Regions from separate parts of the Homo sapiens genome. Here region 1 is linked to region 2. Evidence: fine-mapped expression QTL. Tissue or cell type: whole blood. Region 2 holds a variant in brackets; the other region holds the start of a gene. All regions are shown on one strand. Distances are from middle to middle.

The links. PIP is the estimated chance that this variant, and not a neighbour inherited with it, causes the effect.
Region 1: it holds the start of HACD3, and the variant in region 2 is fine-mapped to the expression of HACD3 in whole blood (TOPMed, PIP above 0.99).

Annotation. Positions count from the first base shown.
Region 1 is chr15:65,526,262-65,534,261 of GRCh38, reverse strand. It overlaps HACD3 (3-hydroxyacyl-CoA dehydratase 3), which reads right to left and starts at 3,799. Exons shown (of 11, transcript NM_016395.4): 1 at 3,544-3,799. The coding sequence starts at 3,630. RefSeq lists a silencer at 3,717-3,936 and an enhancer at 4,975-5,475.
Region 2 is chr15:65,678,484-65,688,839 of GRCh38, reverse strand. All of the region lies in intron 23 of DENND4A (DENN domain containing 4A), which reads left to right. Among named protein-coding and RNA genes, the nearest start is that of SNORD13E, 13 kb to the left of the region's middle. The variant G/A (reference allele first, on the strand shown) is at 3,287.

The DNA.
Region 1 (8,000 bases), 150 kb after region 2:
TGGAACTTAACACTTTAAAACTCACACTTACACATAAGCTGTGGGTCATGCTATAGAAAGCAGAGAGTGTTAAAGTGCTGTCCAAGAACCCCACACCTAGCTTAATGATAGACAAGAGTAGGTACTCCATAAACGATTTTTACTGAACAAATAAATGAAGTGCTTCATCCAGAGCCAGAACCACTGGTTTCTTTTCTTTTTTTTTTTTTTTGAGACGGAGTCTCGCTCTGTCCCCCAGGCTGGAGTGCAGTGGCGCAGTCTCGGCTCACTGCAAGCTCCACCTCCCGGGTTCACGCCATTCTCCTGCCTCAGCCTCCTGGTAGCTGGGACTATAGGCGCCCGCCACCACGCCTGGCTAATTTTTTTGTATTTTTAGTAGAGACGAGGTTTCACCGTGTTAGCCAGGATGGTCTCGATCTCCTGACCTCATGATCCGCCCGTCTCGGCCTCCCATAGTGCTGGGATTACAGGCATGAGCCACCACACCCGGCTGCTTTTCTTTCTTTTTTTTTTTTTTAAATAACAAATCTGCACATGTAAAACCACTGGTTTCAACAGGCCCTGCATAGAGCAATCAGTTGAGAAAGAAAAAAAAAAGGCAACCCGTGACACTCCAGAAGCAGGCATAGCACTCACAGCCAGGCCATGTTATTCTCCTATGGGACATAAACAATCTCACAGAATACCAACCTCAGACAAGGTTACTCTGAAATCCTCATAAAATGAGACAAAGGCCATTTCACAATTTTGTTATAAGCACAGACAAATACATAGTGGCTATGCCACTCACGAAATACCAAACACCCTTTGGCCAAATTGAGTGACTGCTACTCCTGTAGCAATTACAGTTTTGTTCTTATACTAGTCTCCCTGCCCTACAGGTAAGATTTATTCAGATACCCAACCACGAAACTCCCATATTTTCTTACAGGATCTTATCTGAAGTGAAACCCAACCTCCTTAACCCTCCCCTCCCCTAATCACCAACACCCAAATCCTATAATCAGTTCTAACACCCTCCTAATGAAACACCCCAGGGTTCCCCATGGAGTATGCTCTCTCAATGCAATGAGTAATAAACCCAACTTGTTTAACTACGGGTGTGTTATTGGTGGCCTTTGGGCATTGACACGGCTTAAGTCAGAGATTACAAGTGTCTAAAAGTCTATGCCTTTCTCTTTCTGGAACATTCTCCCAGTCTTAGTTTGACAAAAATAATTCTCATTTCTGGAAGTCATCACTAACTAAATGAAAGAAAGGTAACAAATTCCTTTAACACCAGATACCTGGTTCAACATCCAACTCCAATTCTACCAATAAACATACTCCTACACAAAACTTTTTGTTTGTATATGATACGCCTCCTTCTAGATAGCATGCCCTTGAAAAGCTGGGTCTGACTCACCTTTGTAAATCTGTACTACCTTACATGTGTTAGAGGATTGCTAACACATGTAAACACTCTTTTATGAGGGTAACATCATGCTTTTAAACTAATGGTAGTTGAAATATGGGTGCCTCAAAACTACAGATGTGAAACCCCAGAGAAAACAAAAACTCAATAAGGGGGAAAAATGATTTATTTTTCCCCAAAAATTTTTAGATGGTTACTTTTTTTTTTTTTTTTTTGAGACAGAGTTTCACTCTTGTTGCCCAGGCTGGAGTGCAATGGCACCATCTCAGCTCACCGCAACCTCCGCCTCCCGGGTTCAAGCAATTCTCCTGCCTCAGCCTCCCGAGTAGCCAACATAGTGAATTACACGCATGCACCACCATGCCCGGCTAATTTTGTATTTTTAGTAGAGATGGGGTTTCTCCATGTTGGTCAGGCTGGTGTCGAACTCCTGACCTCAGGTGATCCTCCCGCCTCGGCCTCCCAAAGTGTTGGCATTACAGGCGTGAGCCACAGCACCTGGCCTGTTCCGTACTTTTTTATTGACTGCTGGAAGAACCCTCTCTAGACGGGGACTTTGATCCCCATCTACAAAAGATTTTGTTTGTTTTTTCCTATTCTATTAAACCACCGTGGAGCAGTAGAGGGAGACAGCACAGAACATTTACTCATACTCTGACCCAAAAGTATAGCCTCAGTCTGGATGAACACATTAAACGACACACCATGCAATGTCATAGCCTATTTAAAGGCATTCTGGCCACTACTGTCTTCATCTTTCAACAGGAAAACTGTTTATATTCCAGAAGCAAAGATTATATTAAATTCAATAAATTCAAGTCGACACTCAGAAAGCACCTACATTTTACCGGATCCACGGGTGATCCAAGCAGATGCCTGTTCAGAGGCAGAGAGAGTTAAATGGAGTGAAAGAGATGACAAAGTGCCATAGATGTTAAGGAGAAGTTTCCAATAAGAATGACTGTAGAAAGAACCTTCCAGAGGCTGGGCGCGGTGGCTCATGCCTGTAATCCCAGCACTTTGGGAGGCCGAGACGGGTGGATCACCTGAGGTCAGAAGTTCGAGACCAGCCTGGCCAACATGGTGAAACCCTGTCGCTACTAAAAATACAAAAATTAGCCGGGCATGGTGGCACGCGTCTATAATCCCAGCTACTCGGGAGGCTGAGGCAGGAGAATCCCTTGAACCCGGGAGGCAGAGGTTGCGGTGAGCCGAGATCGCGCCATTGCACTCCAGCCTGGGCGACAAGAGCGAAACACCGTCTCAAAAAAAAGAAAAGAAAAAAAAAGAAAGAAAGAAAGAAAGAACCTTCCAGAATGAAAATTCCAGTTTCTCAAAGCCCAGAATCTTTAGTTTGGACAGAGACATGAGGATACACAGGTCCTGGAGTCTCCACTACTACGTGCCTTCAGCTTGCTTACATTAAGGGCCAAGGAGCTCAAACAGAAATGCTTAATGTAACTTAAGAACTTTTTAAGTTCTCTGTGCAACTCAGCAAACCTGAGCTCACAACCTTCAGAACAGAGGGGGAAATCACTTCCTCCAGCTCTTGTGAATTTTAAAATTAAAAGTAATGAGAATGATTTCCATCACTGAACGGTTGCGAGGTGGGTGTGGCCCCCCACCCCTCCCCCTCCCCCACCTCCGGCAGCGCCCAGCCTCAGTAACGTCCGAGGGGCCTGGCTGGACCTCTCAGGCCAGCGGCAGGCATTCAGCTACGGCCCAGCAAGCCGCTGTCACAACCGCACCCCTGACCCAACAAGCTCATCCCACATCTCGAAGGGCCCCAGCCAACTCGAACCCCGACGGCCAGGCAGCCAGGGCCGGGCCTGGGCTCCATGAAGGCCGCCGACTGCGAACAAAGAAGAGGCCCGGGGTAGCCTGAGAGGCCCAGGCCGAGCTCTCTGGGGACCCGAAGGTTCCTGCAGCCCTCGGGGGGTTGTGCCCCCGGCCCGAGATCTGCAGATGAGCCTCGAAAAGCGCCAGCACGCCGTAAGCGCACCGCGTCGCCGACCTTGTTGGCGCACTGCAGGCTCTCCGGCGCGCACGCGGACAAAGGGGGCAGGGGTCCTGGCGGGTACCCGGAGCCGCGATCCCGCGCGCTTCCCGCCGCCCGACCCGGCCTTTACCTGTACGTCACTCAGCTCCACGCGCAGATATAGCTCGCGGTGTCGCTGAGCCCAGTAGACATGCGGCGTCAACACCTGATTCTCCATGGCCACACTGCCCAGGGCGCGGGGAGGCTAGGCTCGCTGCGCCTCGCTGCCTCAGGTAGTGCTCTGCTGGCGCGAGCAGAAAGCAGGCCTCAAACCCTAGCGCTCCTGAGCGCCTGCAACCCGGCACCTCGAGATACCCCACGCTCGCGGGCCGCGCCTGCGCAGTGACGCGCCGGGATGGCGGCGGCGCCAGCAGCGGGCCTTGGCGCGAGCCGGGCGGGGGCGGGGCGCAGGCGGGATAGGGGCAGGCCGGGGCACAGAGACGCCGCAGCTCGCCGCGGCCGCCTAGGGAATTGGAATCAGCGGGTGGTCTGCTCTCCCCACTCGTCTTCAGGGACATGCTTTAAAATAAGCTTTAAAATAAAAAAGGCTGGAGACTTATGGGGGACCGATCAGCCTGGAAAAGGGTTTGGGACTGGTGTCTCTGGACGGTCCTTCGCATTCTGTTTACTGAGTACCTACTGTGTGCCTGGGTTTCAAAGCTAAACACTGGAACAACAGAAGTGAGACACAGTCCCTTCTGTCTTAGAACTCCCAGCCTATTAAAAGATGCAAGTAATTACAGATGAAATGAGGATAATAATGGTGATAGGGGACATGGTGTGGGAGCAGCGTGGAAGAGCGTTCCAACAAGGGAAAATAAAGACCAGGGCAGCGCTGCCCAATAAAACTGTAGGTGATGATGGAAATATTGCACATTGCGCTCTTTAATACGGTAGCCACTAGCCACATGAGGCTTTTGAGTACTTGAACTGAATAACCGAATTTTCAATTTTACTCACTTCTGTTTTTTTTTTGTTGTTGTTGTTGTTTTGTTTTGAGACGGAGTTTCTCTCTTGTTGCCCAGGCTGGAGTGCAATGGCGCGATCTCGGCTCACCGCAACCTCTGTCTCCCGGGTTCAAGTGATTCTCCTGCCTCAGCCTCCCGAGTAGCTGGGATTACAGGCATGCGCCACCGGCTAATTTTGTATTTTTAGTAGAGACGAGGTTTCTCCATGTTGGTCAGGCTGGTCTCGAACTCCCGACCTCAGGTGATCCGCCCGCCTTGGCCTCCCAAAGTGCTGAGATTATAGGCGTGAGACACCGCGCCCGGCCAACTTTATTCACTTCTAATTTAAACTTAAATATCCATATTTTTGGTGGCTATTCTATTGGACAGTGCAGGAGACTGTCTCAAAAAAATAGGAAACTCAAACTAGAGACAACACTCATTTATGTCTTACTTAAGCTGTCTTGTCTGTATCGGGTTTCATCCCCAAGTTCTTCTGCAGAGAAGAATTTAATGGGAAGAAATATTTATATGAAAACTAGAACTCTGGGACAAAAATGGAACTCATATTCAATCCTGTTAGCTCCCATTTATTTAGCAAAGTGATTCTATTAGCACCCGTTTGTTTAGCAGAGGGATCTAACGCTGAAAACAAATTCTGCTAGCTCTCTGGAAACATTTAGCTCAAGAGTGGACAGAATAAAATATAGAGAGTTTTCATATAATGAATGTGCTGAGCTCACAAAGAGTTTATGATGATAGGAACTGAGGGCCGTGGGAACCATTGTCAGACATTTGAGAGCCAACCCTTGAGAACGGGATGGTGAAATGCGAGTAGGAATTTGACTGAGTAAGAACCAGGTAGGCCGTGGAAGCACAGGGCGCTTGCTTCGTTCACAGGTGAAAAGATGTGGACCAGGTGCAGCGTCTCACGCGTGTAATCCCAGCACTTTGGGAGGACGAGGCGGGAGGATCGCTGGAGCCCAGGAGTTTGAGACCAGCCTGGGAAAAATGGCAATACACTGTCTCTACAAAAAATACAACAGTTAGCAGGGCGTGGTTGGCGCGCCCCTGGGGTCCGAGCTACTCGGGAGGCTAGGGTGGGAGAATTGCTTAAGCCCAGGAGGCGAGATCGCGCCACTGCACTCCAGCTTGGGTGACAGTGTGAGGCCCTGTCTTAAAATTTAAAAAAGAGAGAGGGTTGTGGAAGGAGGTTCTGCTGCTAGGGATTAAAGGCATAGAGGAGAGAGGTCGCCCTGAATCTGGAAAGGCAGAGGGTGCATTAGGAAAGTCTTTGTTTGCTTCACTGAGGTGCCTATACTGTATCCCACAGACACATGGGAGCCAAGGAAGTTTGTTAACCTGGAGATTAGTAAAATCAAATGTGCTCAGCAAGAAAGACCTGTCAGAGAGGAGGAGGAATTGGTAGTAGGCAAAGCAATGGGAGACCAATGCAATCTGCCAAGAATGAGTTGATGAAAGCAGTGACGTTGACAGTCTTGAATTTTAACGATAAAATATTTTTTATGATAAAGGTATTTTATTGTATTGTGTTTACTACAATGCAGATGCAATATGGGGCACTTTTTAAAAACATTGAGATGTAGTTTACATATAGAACATGGGTAAATCTTAAATATTCAGTTTAAGCTGAATTTTTCTATATGTATATATCCATGTAATTATCACCTAGATCAAGATCTGGAATATTTCCAGTATCCCAGAGGTTATTTCATGTTAAAATATCTTTGCCTCTCAGTAATTACTATCCTGATATATCACCATAGAGTCTTTTTTGTCTGTTCTGTTCTTGAATTTTATATAAATGGAACCTACAGTGTCTGGTTTCTTTTTCTTTTTTCTTTTTTTTTTTTTTGAGACAGAGTCTTGCTCTGTCACCCAGGATGGAGTGCAGTGGTGCAGTCTCGGCTCACTGCAACCTCGGCCTCCCAATTCAAGCGATTCTCCTGCCTCAGCCTCCCAAGTAGCTGGGATTACAGCTGTCCGCCATCACGCCCAGCTAATTTTTGTATTTTTAGTAGAGACGGGGTTTCACCATGTTGGTCAGGATGGTCTCTAACTCCTGACCTCGTGATCTGCCTGCCTCAGCCTCCCAAAGTGCTGGGATTACAGGCATGAGCCACCGTGCCTGGCCCCTAATTTTTGTATTTTAGTAGATACGGGGTTTCACCATCTTGGCCAGGCTAGTCTTGAACTCCTGACCTCATGATCCACCCGCTTCAGCCTCCCAAAGTGCTGGGATTACAGATGTGAGCCACCGCACCGGGCCTTGGTTTCTTTCATCAACATAATGTGTATGAGATTTATCCATGTTGCTGAGTGAATCAGTAATTCATTCTTTTAGTTTTTGGTTTTGCTCTGTAGTAGTTGACTATATGAGTATACCACAAATTATTTATCCATTCTCCTATCGATGGATATTTGTGTTGTTTCTAGTTTTTAGCTATTACAAATAAAGCTGCTCTGAATATTTGTGTACCTGTCTTTTGGGGATAAATGCTCTTAATTATCTTGGAATAAATACCTATGAAGGGAATTGCTAGGTTACACAGGTGTATGATTAGCTTTAGTAGGTGTGCTAAGCAGTTTTACAAAGTGTTTTGGTCAATTTACATTCCACGGCAATGTTTGAAAGTTCTAGTTGCTCTATATCCCTAGTATTTTCAGACTTTTTAATTTAATTTTATTTTATTTTATTTTATTTTATTTTTTGAGAAAGAGTCTTGCTCTGTTGCCCAGGCTGGAGTGCATTGGCGCGATCTCAGCTCACTGCAACTTCTACCTCCGCAGTTCAAATGATTCTCCTACCTCAGCCTCCCAAGTAGCTGGGATTATAGGTGTGCACCACCACACCTGGCTAATTTTTTTATTTTTAGTAGAGATGGGGTTTCACCATGTTGGCCATGCTGGTCTCAAACTTCTAGGCTCAAATGGTCTCAAACTCCTGGGCTCAAGTGATCCTCCTGCTGCAGCCTCCCAGGCGTGAGCCACAGCACCCAGCCTAATTTTTTTTTTCCAGCACCACCCCCACCCCCAGCCAATGTTTTTAATTTTAGCCATCCTGGTAGGTGGGTAATAAAAAATAGAATAATTTTAATTCAGCGTATTTGAAACCTGAGGCTTATCAGCTGACTTCTACCAAGGTGAAAGCTATTGATATAGAAGAAGACTGAATGTTGGCATTTTGCCTCAGATGCTTCATAAGAAAGGTCCAGTGGAAGTGGGCCTATCCAGCCTGGTTTGACCACTAGTAACATACTGCAAAATGACTTCTTTAGGCCTGAGTTTCCACATTCATCAAATTAGGTAAATTTGATGAGTTGGATTTGGTTCCCTCTAATGCTCTTATCAGCTGTTTCTAAATTTTTCTGCAAAGAGACCCCACTATTATGGACCCCTCTCTGCAAGAGAAATCTAACAAGAAAAAAAATAGAAATGGAGAGAAGAAAGAGTATCATTCTGGTGAACTATAAAACTCCAGGGTGGGGCTGGACATGGTGGCTTATGCTGTAATCCCAATGCTTTGGGAGGCTGAGGTGGGAGGATCGCTTGAGTTTAAGAGTTCGAGACCAGCCTGGGC
Region 2 (10,356 bases):
GCAGGCAGTTTCTGGGGAGAGACCAACACAGAAATGAGTTTATCATTTCCTTTCCTCATGCATCTTTGCCCCAAGGGCAGTCACATCATGGCATGGCACCTCTGGCAGATAAACTTCAAGAGAAACCCCATATTTCCTGAACAGAGAAGCCTGAGAAAGAGGCCTCTTTGTGCAGAAAGTTTGAGGGGAATCCCATACAAGTTTCACCCTACCCCTTGACCTGCACAGTTATGGGACAGATGCAAACTGGAATAGAAAAGGCTTAAGTAACTGAACTGCAAGTTCACTGCCTACAAAAAGTAAAACACAAATTACAGTCTGAATATAACTCAAGTGTTTGCCTGCTGAAACAAGAGCATCAACAATCTCGGAAGTATTATAACAGTACCCAGGCTACATAACATAATATTCAGTGTCCAAGATAAAATCCAAAATTACTTGGTATAAAGGACCAGGAAAATGTGACCAGTTCTCAAGGAAAAGACAACTCCAGAATGACTCAGATGTTGGAAGTATCAGGGAAAAACTTTAAAGCAGCTTCCATAACTGGTTCCTTTAGGTAAAGGAAAACACATTTGAAATAAATTAAAATAAATTCTAGCAAGAAATAGAATGTATTAAAACAAATTTTATAACTGAAATATAATCCAATGTAAACTGATCAAATGGGTTAAATAACAGAATGGAGATGACAATGAAAAGTAAACTTAAAGATACAGTAATAGAAATTAGAAGAAGAGAGAAAAGATTTTTATAAAAATAAACAGCCTCAGGGACTTGTGTGACAATATCAAAAGGAACAAATGAAATATGGATAACTGGAGTTCCAGAAGAACTGAAGAGAGATTCTGTTAGAAAAGATATTTGAAGATTTGAAAAAATAATGGCTGAAACCTCCAAAATTGGTAAAAGATACAGATTTATAGATACAAGAGACTCAGCAAATTACAGACAGAATTAAACTCAAAACCACACTTGCACACATCAAAAGTAAACTAAAAATCAGAGATATTCACCTGCTAACAAGAAAACGGCTGCTAAAAAAAAATTAAAATACACTGAAAGCTGTTAAAAAATTATTCATTACCTACGGAGCCATAAAGATTTGAATGTACCCATGCACTTTTCATCACAATCCTTGGAAGAATTTAGTGGAATGGTGCCTTTAACGCATTGGAAGAAAAGACCTGTCAACTCAGAATTTTATATCCAGTGAAAATATTCTTCATGGGTGAAGGTGAAATAAAGACATTTTCAGATAAAATAATTCATGAGCAATGGGATTGCTCTATGAGATATGCTGAAGGAAGTTATTTAAACTGAAGAAAAATGATACCAAAGAGAAACCTGCATCTTCAGGAATAAAATAAATGCAAAATAAATGGTAAATAGCTGGTTATTAGAAAAGATTACTTTTTTGCCTCCTAAACTGAAAAAAAAAGAAAAGAAAAACCTATAATTGTCCAAAACAAAAATAGTAACATTATCTCATGGAATTTTAAATATGCATAGATGTTTGACAGTAGTGAACATCAGTAGTAAAGGAACTTACCCCACAGACCTTCATTATAGTTATATTATTAAATATGAAATGATATAAAACTAACTCCAAGTAGACTTTAAATGATTAGATATGTATATTGTAATCCCTGGAGCACTGAGTTAAAAAATACAGTGAGATGTAGCCAAAAAGCCAATAAAAATATTCAAATAGTCTTACAGAGAACAGGAAATCTTAAAGAGGCCAAGAAAGGGGGAACAGAGAAATAGACTAGATCTAACCATATGAATAATTAAATGATAACAATCTAAACACCTCAATTAAAAGGCAGACTTTGGCTAGGCATGGTGGCTCATGCTTGTAATCCCAGCTCTCTGGAAGGCCAAGCCAGGAGGATTGCTTGAAGCCAGGAGTTTGAAACCAGCGTGGGCAACATAGCAAGACCCTGTCTGTACAATTTTTTTTTTTTTTTAATTTTAACTAGCTGGCCATGGTGGCACATACCTATGTAGTCCTAGCTACTCAGGAGGCTAAGGCAGGTGTGTTGCTTGAACCCAGAAGTTCAAGGCTGTAGTGAGCTATGATTGTGCCACTGCACTCCAACCTGAGCAACAGACTGATCTCATAATAATGAGGAGTTGGATGTTATGGTGTGTTCCTGTAGTTCCAGCTACTCAGGAGGTTGAGGTGGGAGGTCTGGATTGCTTGAGTCCAGGAGTTCTAGGCCAACCAGGGCAGCATAGCAAGACTTTGTCTCTGAAAAATATTGATTATAAGAAACAGTTCATCAGGAAGACACAATAATTATCCATGTATATTCACTAAATCACAGAGCCTCAAAACAATGACACAATTGGTAGAATTAAGGGGAGTTCTAAATCTGAGTAGGAAATTTAAAAACGCTCAGTTGATAGAAGAGGTAACAAAAATTGGTCAAGACAAATCTCAGCAACACAATCAGCTACTTTTATATAATTGACATTTATAGAATATACACTCAACAACTACAGAATACACTATTTTCAAGTGTATACAGTACAGTCATCAAGATAAACTATGTTTGGCTATTTAAAAAACCTCAGTCAATTGAAAAGGATCCAAATCAAAGTACATTGTAAAGAGTTACAGAACATTACTGAGGGATTTTAAAAGAGATTTAAATAAATGGAGAGACATGCCATGTTCATGGAATTGAAGACTCGGTATTGTTAAGCTGCAACCCTCCCTACATTGGCATCTAAATGTATATCAAAATTGCACCTATCAAAATTCTAGCAGGATTTTGTAGAATTTGACAAGCTGATCCTAAAATTAATATAGAAAATAGAAGGACCCAGCATAGCCAAAACAATTTGGAAAAAGAAAAAGTTGGAGGACTCACACTTCCCAATTTCAAAATTTACTACAAAGCTACAGCTATCAAGACTGTGCTGCTAGCATAAACAGAGATGAATAGATGAGAGAATAAAATTTAGACTCCAGAAATAAACTCTTATGTTTATGGTTATTTAAATTTCAATAAAGATGCCAAGGCAATTCAATGGGGAAATGATAGTTTTTGTCAAAAAATGGTGCTGAGATAATTGGATATCTGCATGCAAATACAGTCAGACTTCTGTATCTGCAAGTTCTGCTTCCATGGATTCAACCAACCACAGATTGAAAATATTACATAAATACAAATAATACAGTATAAGAACTATTTACATAGCATTTACATTGTATTAGGTATTATAAGTAACCTAGAGATGATTTAACTTGTACAGGAGGATGTGCATAGGTTAT[G/A]TGCAAATACCAACCCCCTGTGGATACTGAGGGATGACTGTAGGTGAATGTAGACACTCAACTTATATACAAGCATTAACACAAAAAGGATAAGATGTCTAAATGTAAGAGCTAACACTATAAAAATTGTGGGCTGGCGGTGGCTCACGCCTGTAATCCCAACACTTTGGGAGGCCAAGGCAGGCGAATCACGAGGTCAGGAGATCTAGACCATCCTGGCTAACACAGTGAAACCCCGTGTCTACTAAAAATACAAAAAATTAGCCGGGCACGGTGCCAGGCGCCTGTAGTCCCAGCTACTCGGGAGGCTGAGGCAGGGAAATGGCGTGACCCCGGGAGGCGGAGCTTGCGGTGAGCTGAGATTGCGCCACTGCACTCTGGCCTAGGCGACAGAGTGAGACACGGTCTCAAAAAAAAAAAAATTGTGGGCGGGGCGTGGTGGCTCATGCCTGTAATCTGAGAACTTTGGGAGGCTGAGGCGGGCAGATCCCCTGAGGTCAGGAGTTTAAGACTAGCCTGGCTAACATGGTGAAACCCCCGTTTCTACTAAAAATACGAAAGATTAGCCAGGCATGGTGGTGCATGCCTGTAATCCCAGCTACTTGGGAGGCTGAGGTAGGAGAATCGCTTGAAGCCCGGAGGCGGAGATTGCGGTGAGCCAAGATCGCGCCATTGCACGCCAGCTTCAGCAACAAGAGCAAAACTCCGTCTCAAAAAAAAAAAAAAAAAAAAAAATTGGAAGAAAATATAGGAAGAAAATCTTTTAAGACCTTGAATTAAGCCAAGAATTCTTAGGTATGATACCAGAAACAGTCTATAAAAGGAAAAATTGATAAGTTAGGCATTATCAAAATTGAAGACTTTTGTGATCCAAAAATGAAAATGTAAGAAAATGAAAAGCCACAGACTGGGGAAAAGATACGCAAATTCTGTATTTAGTAAAGGACTTGAATCCATAATATACAAACAACTCACACAGCTCAATGATAAGATAAACAACCCAAGTTAAAAATAGATCTAAATAGATATTTCACCAAAGAAGAGATATTAATGGACGAAAAGCACATGAAACATGTTCAACATAATTAGTTATTAGGCATTAATTGCATTTGGAGCCACAGTGAAATCCCATTTCACACTCACTAGAGGAATGGCTATAATCCAAAAGATGATGACAAGTGGAGGGGATGTGGAGAAATGGGAACCCTCATACTTTTTTGGTTGGGAATGTAAAATGGTACAGCCACTTTGGAAAACAATTTGGCAGCTTCTTTAAAAGCTAAGCATTAATTTAACATATGACCCAGCAGTTCCACTCTAAATAATCTACCCAAGAGAAATGAAAACATAGACTACACAAAGATTTTATGTGAATAATCATAACATTGTTCATAAAAGCCAAAAAGTGGAAACAACCCAAATTTCCGTCAACTGGAAAATAGGTAAAATGTGTTATACAGTGGAATATAATTGAGCAATACAAAAGAACGAAATACTGATACATGCCTTAAAAATTGGTGAACCTCAAATACATGTTTATTTTAAGTGGATTAAGCCAGATTTTAAAAGACCAAATATTGTATGAATCCATTGATATGAAATGTCCAGAAAAGGCAAATCTGTAGACACAGTATATTAGTGGTTGCCTGGTGTTAGGAAGGCAATGGAGATTAACTGTAAATGGGCATGAGGTATCTTACTGGGGTGGTAAAGATTTTCTAAAATTAGAAACGTTCTAAAAGTTGGTAAATTTACTACAAAGATTATTGAATTGTAGACTTAATATGAGTGAATGTTATGACATGAAAATTAAGCCCCAATAAGGTTTCTTTTAAATCAAGCATATTTTCTGACCACAATAGAATTCAATTACAAATCACTAAGAATAAGTAAGAGATCAAGAAAAACCTGAACACACTTTCAAATAATTTGAATCAAAGATAAAATCATAAAGGAAATTAGAATAATGTTTGAGTGGAATGAACAAAAATATATCAAAATTTGTGGGATACAACTAAGAGGTGCTTAGAGGTTAACTCATAGCTTTAAGTGCTGTAGTTAGAAGTGATTTAAAATTAATGATTTATGGTTCTGCCTTAAGAAACTAGAAAAAAAGAACAAAGTAAGCTCAAAGTAGGAAGAAGGAAGTAATAAACATGGAGCAAAAATCAGTAAAACTGAAAAGATGGAAAGCATAAGAATATCAATAAAACCAAAAGCTGATTCTTTAAAAAGAACAAAATTGACACACTGCTGGCTAGACTGATCTAGAAAAAGAGAACACAATCACTAATATCAGAAAGATCCCACCTAAAGATTAAAATAAATAATATTTTTAAAGCCTAGCGTAGGCAGGTCTCATTTTATTGCACTTGCTTTACTGCTCTACACAAATGTCATGCTTTTTACAAATTGAAAGTTTGTGGCAAACCTGTGTTGAGCAAGTCAATTGGTATCATTTTCCAACAGCGTGTGCTTACTTCATGTCTCTGTGTCACATTTTGGTAATTCTTGCAATATTTCAAACTTTTTTGTTATTATATCTGTTATGGTGACTTGTGATCCATGATCCTTGATGTTATTATTGTAATAGTTTTGAGACACCATGAACTGTTCCCATATAAGATGGTAAACTTCATCGATAAATGTTGTGTAATTTCTGACTGTCCACCAAATGGCCATTCTCCTGACTCTCTCCCTCTCCTCAGGCCTTCTTATTCCTTGAGACACAACAATATTGAAATTAGGCCAATTAATAACCCTACAGTGGCTTCTAAAGTGTTCACATGAAAGGACGAGTCACACATTTTTCACTTTAAATCAAAAGCTAGAAATGATTAAGCTTAATGAGGAAGGTATGTCAAAAGCCAAGAAAGGCCGAAAGTGAGGTCTCCTGCACCAAACAGCCAAGTTGTGAATGCAAAGGGAAAGTTCTTGAAGGAAATTAAAAGTGACATGAGTGATAAGACAGCAAAACAGTGTTATTGCCAAAAAGGAGAAAGTTTGAGTGGTCTGGATAGATCACATCAGCCACAATATTCCCTTAAGCTAAAGCCTAATCCAGAGCAAGGCCCTAACTAACTCTCTTCAGTTTTATGAAGGCTGAGAAAGCTGAGGAAGCTGCAGAAGAAAAGTTTGAAGCCAGCAGAGGTTGGCTCATGAGGTTTAAAGAAAGAAGCTGTCTCTATAACATAAAAGTGCAGGATGAAGCAGCAAGTGCTAATATAGAAGATGTAGCTAATTATCCCCGAGACCTATGTAAGGTCACTGATGAAGGTGGCTATACTAAACAACAGATTTTCAATGCAGATCAAACAGCCCTGTATTGGAAGAAGATGCCCATCTAGGACTTTGATGGAGAGAGAGGAAAAGTCAGTGTCCGGCGTCCAGGCTTCAAAGGACAGGCTGACTCTCTTGTTAGGGGGTAGTGTAGCTGGTGATGTTAAATTAAGCCAATGCTCATCTACCATTCTGAAAATCCTAGAATTTGCTAAAGCTACTCTCTGCCTGTGCTCTGTAAATGGAACAAAAAACCTGGATGACAGCACATCTGTTTACAACATGGTTTACTGAATGTTTAAACCCATTGTTGAGACCTACTGCTCAGAAAAAATATATTTATTTCAAAATATTACTGCTCATTGACAATGCACCTAGTCATGCAAGAGCTCCAATAGAAAAGCAGTTGCCAGGTGCAGTGGCTCACGCGTGTAATCCCAACGCTTTGGAAGGCTGAGGCAGGCGGATCCCTTGAGCTCAGAAATTTGAGACCAGTCTGGGCAACATGGCAAAACCCTGTCTCTACAAAAAATTAGCTGGGTGTGGTGGCACATGCCTGTGGTCCCAGCTACTCAGGAAGCGGAGGTGGGAGAATCGCTTGAATCTGGGAAGCGGAGGTTGCATTGGGCTGAGATGACTGTCTGTACTCCAGCCTGGCTGACAGAATTATACCCCCATCTCAAAAAAAAAAAAAACAAAAAAATGAAATGTCAAGGAGTCAAGTTGAATGATGAAAAAAGAAATGTCAAGGAGATTTATTGTTTTCATGCTAGTATTCATTCTGCAGCCCATGGATCAAGGAGTCGCTTTTACTTTTAACTTAGTATTTAAGAAATACATTTCATAAAGTTATAGCCATAATAGGTGGTGATTCCTGTGATGGATCTGGGCAAAATAAATTGAAAACCTTCTGGAAAGGATTCTCTTCTAGATGCAATTAATGGCATTCATAATTCACAGGAGGAGATCAAAATGGCAACATTAACTGGAGTTTGGAAGAAATAGATTCCAGTTCTCAAGGATGATTTTGAGGGGTTCAGGACTTCAGTGGAGGAATTATGCAGATATGGTGAAAATAGCAAAAACCCCTAGAATTAGAAGTGGAGCCTTGAGGATGTGACTTAATTGCTGCAATCAAATAATAAAACTTGAAGGGATGAGGAGTTGCTTCTAATGGATGAGCAAAGAAAGTTGTCAGACAGCATCACATGCTACAGAGAAATCTTTCTTGAAAGGAAGAGTCAATGGAGCAAACTTCATTATTATCCTCTTTTTTACCACAGCCACTCAACCTTCAGCAGCCACCACTCTGTTCAGTCACCAGCCATCAATATCCAGGCAAAACCCTCAACCAGCAAAAAGATTACCACTTGCTGAAGGTTCACATAATTGTTAGCAATTTTTAGTAATAAGGTATTTTAAAATTTATGTGCATTTTTTAGACATAATGCTGTTGTACAGTAGACTTCAGTGTAATGTGAACAACTTTTATATGCACTGGGAAATAAATTTGTGGTTTGCTTTATTGCGACATTTGTTTTGTTGAGGTGGTCTGGAACTGAACCTGCCATACCTCCAAGGTAGGTCTGTACAGTGCCTTCATTGAAGGCACTAAATAAATGGTTATTGTTGCTATACTCAGTGAAATTTAGTCTCATTAATTTTTTTATGTATAAAGAATTTAATGTCTCTCAATGTAAAATCATTCTTTTTTATAATCTACTCAAACATGCATAATCTGTATTTTAATTAGAAAAATTCAACTATTCGTCTTATTTTTTATACTAAGTAATTCTTGTATGCATAAACAGCAACAAGACTTCTGGTTCAGGATGTTAAAATACATATCTGTATTCCCTCCTCCTCAAAATCCCATTAAAGTGACAGAAAAATAGGAGAATATAATAAATCCATCAAAGCAATGAAAGAAGAAAAGTATGCCATCAGGAGATGAGAAATTTTCATACCTTTCTGAAAATGAGAAAGCAAATGAAACTGGATTGATGAAAATGCCTGAATACAGAAAGTATAGCCTCCAAAGTAGTCATAAGAGAGATCAGCTACCAAGATGAGAACTGTTCTTGTGAATGAAGCCCAGGTGAGCAGGCAGAAGTATAAAATTACACAGCCAGGTAATTAAATTAAAAGACTACTTAAGGAATAGTTAGGCTAGGCGTTGTTTTTCCTCTTGCAGGAGTAGTTGTGAAAATGAAATACTCCAGCTCACAAAGGTATGAAATCTGTAAGTACTAAGAGTGAAGGAGAGATACCAAGGACAGGCATTGAGATGAGAAAGAAAGTAGGGTTAAAAGTAATTCCAAAATTTCATTATTAGCCCAGAGTTTTTTTAAGGAAGCCCCACTCTACTTAAAATATACTGAAGTACCCACCAACCAAAGTAAAACCTTCCTTTGTTTGGTCGCCCTGTACATTCTCTTCCAATTACCCATCCAGGCACTCTAAAGGGTGGCCTGCTTACAGACATGCTAACATTGAGCTCTGTCATTCAAGGGAAGGTCTGAGTTCAAGACTAGCCTGGGTAACATGGCAAAACCCCATCTCTAGAAAAAAAAAAAATTAGCCAGGTGTGGTGGTGCATGCCTGTGGTCCCAGCTGCTTGGGAGGCTGAGGTGGGAAGATTGCTTGAGCTCTGGAGGTGGAGGTTGCAGTGAGCCGTGATTGTGCCACTGTCCTCCAGCCTGGATGACAGAGCAAAACCCTACCTCAAAAAAATGTTTTTAATATCATAAAAAATAAAATGAAAAAAAGATGAAATAGAAGAACATTTAGTTAACTTGATAGAGTATCAAAAAACTATAGCAAACACCATTCCTAACTGAAATATTATAATTATTTCTTTTAAAGTGAGGATCGGGCCAGGTGTGGTGGCTCACACCTGTAATCCCAGCACTTTGGGAGGCCGAGGCGGGCGGATCACAAGGTCAGGAGATGGAGACCATCCTGGCTAATATGGTGAAACCTCATCTCTACTAAAAATACAAAAAATTAGCTGGGCGTGGTGGCATGCACCTGTAGTCCCAGCTACCCGGGAGGCTGAGGCAGGAGAATCACTTGAACCTGGGAAGTGGAGGGCGGAGGTTGCAGTGAGCTGAGATGGGGCCACTGCACTCCAGCCCGGGTGACAGAGCTAGACTCTGTCTCAAAATAATAATAAAATCATAAAGTCAGGATCAAGGGAAGGAAGCATGCTGAACACCTGTGCCACCCAACAGCATTCTGGATTCTAACAATACCAGAAGGCAAGGAAAAGAAGTAAGAGATAAAGCCCAGGCATGGTGGCTCATCTTGTAATCCCAGCACTTTGGGAGGCCAAGGCAGGCATATCACTTGAGTCTAGGAGTTCAAGACCAGCCTGGGCAACATGGTGAAACCCTGTCTCTACTAAAAATACAAAAAATTAGCCAGTCATGGTGGTGTGCACCTGTAGTCCCAGCTACTTGGAAGGCTGAAGTGGGAGGATCACCTGAGCCTGAGGAGTCGAGGCTGCTATGAGCTGTGATCACATCACTGCACTCCAGCCTGGGTGACACAGTGAAACTGTCTCAAAACAAAAAATGATAGATAAAAATGTTGTAAAAGAATTTAATAAAACTTGATATTCTCATAAATGAGGTTATCTACTACCACTGAAAAACTGTTTGAACTGGTAAGGTGGCTAGAAACAACAAACATTTGTAAAACAGCTTTCCTGGATATGACAATAGCCAGTTAGAAAAGTAATGGAAAAATATGAGCTAATTCACTAGAACACAAACATGAAATGTCTAGAA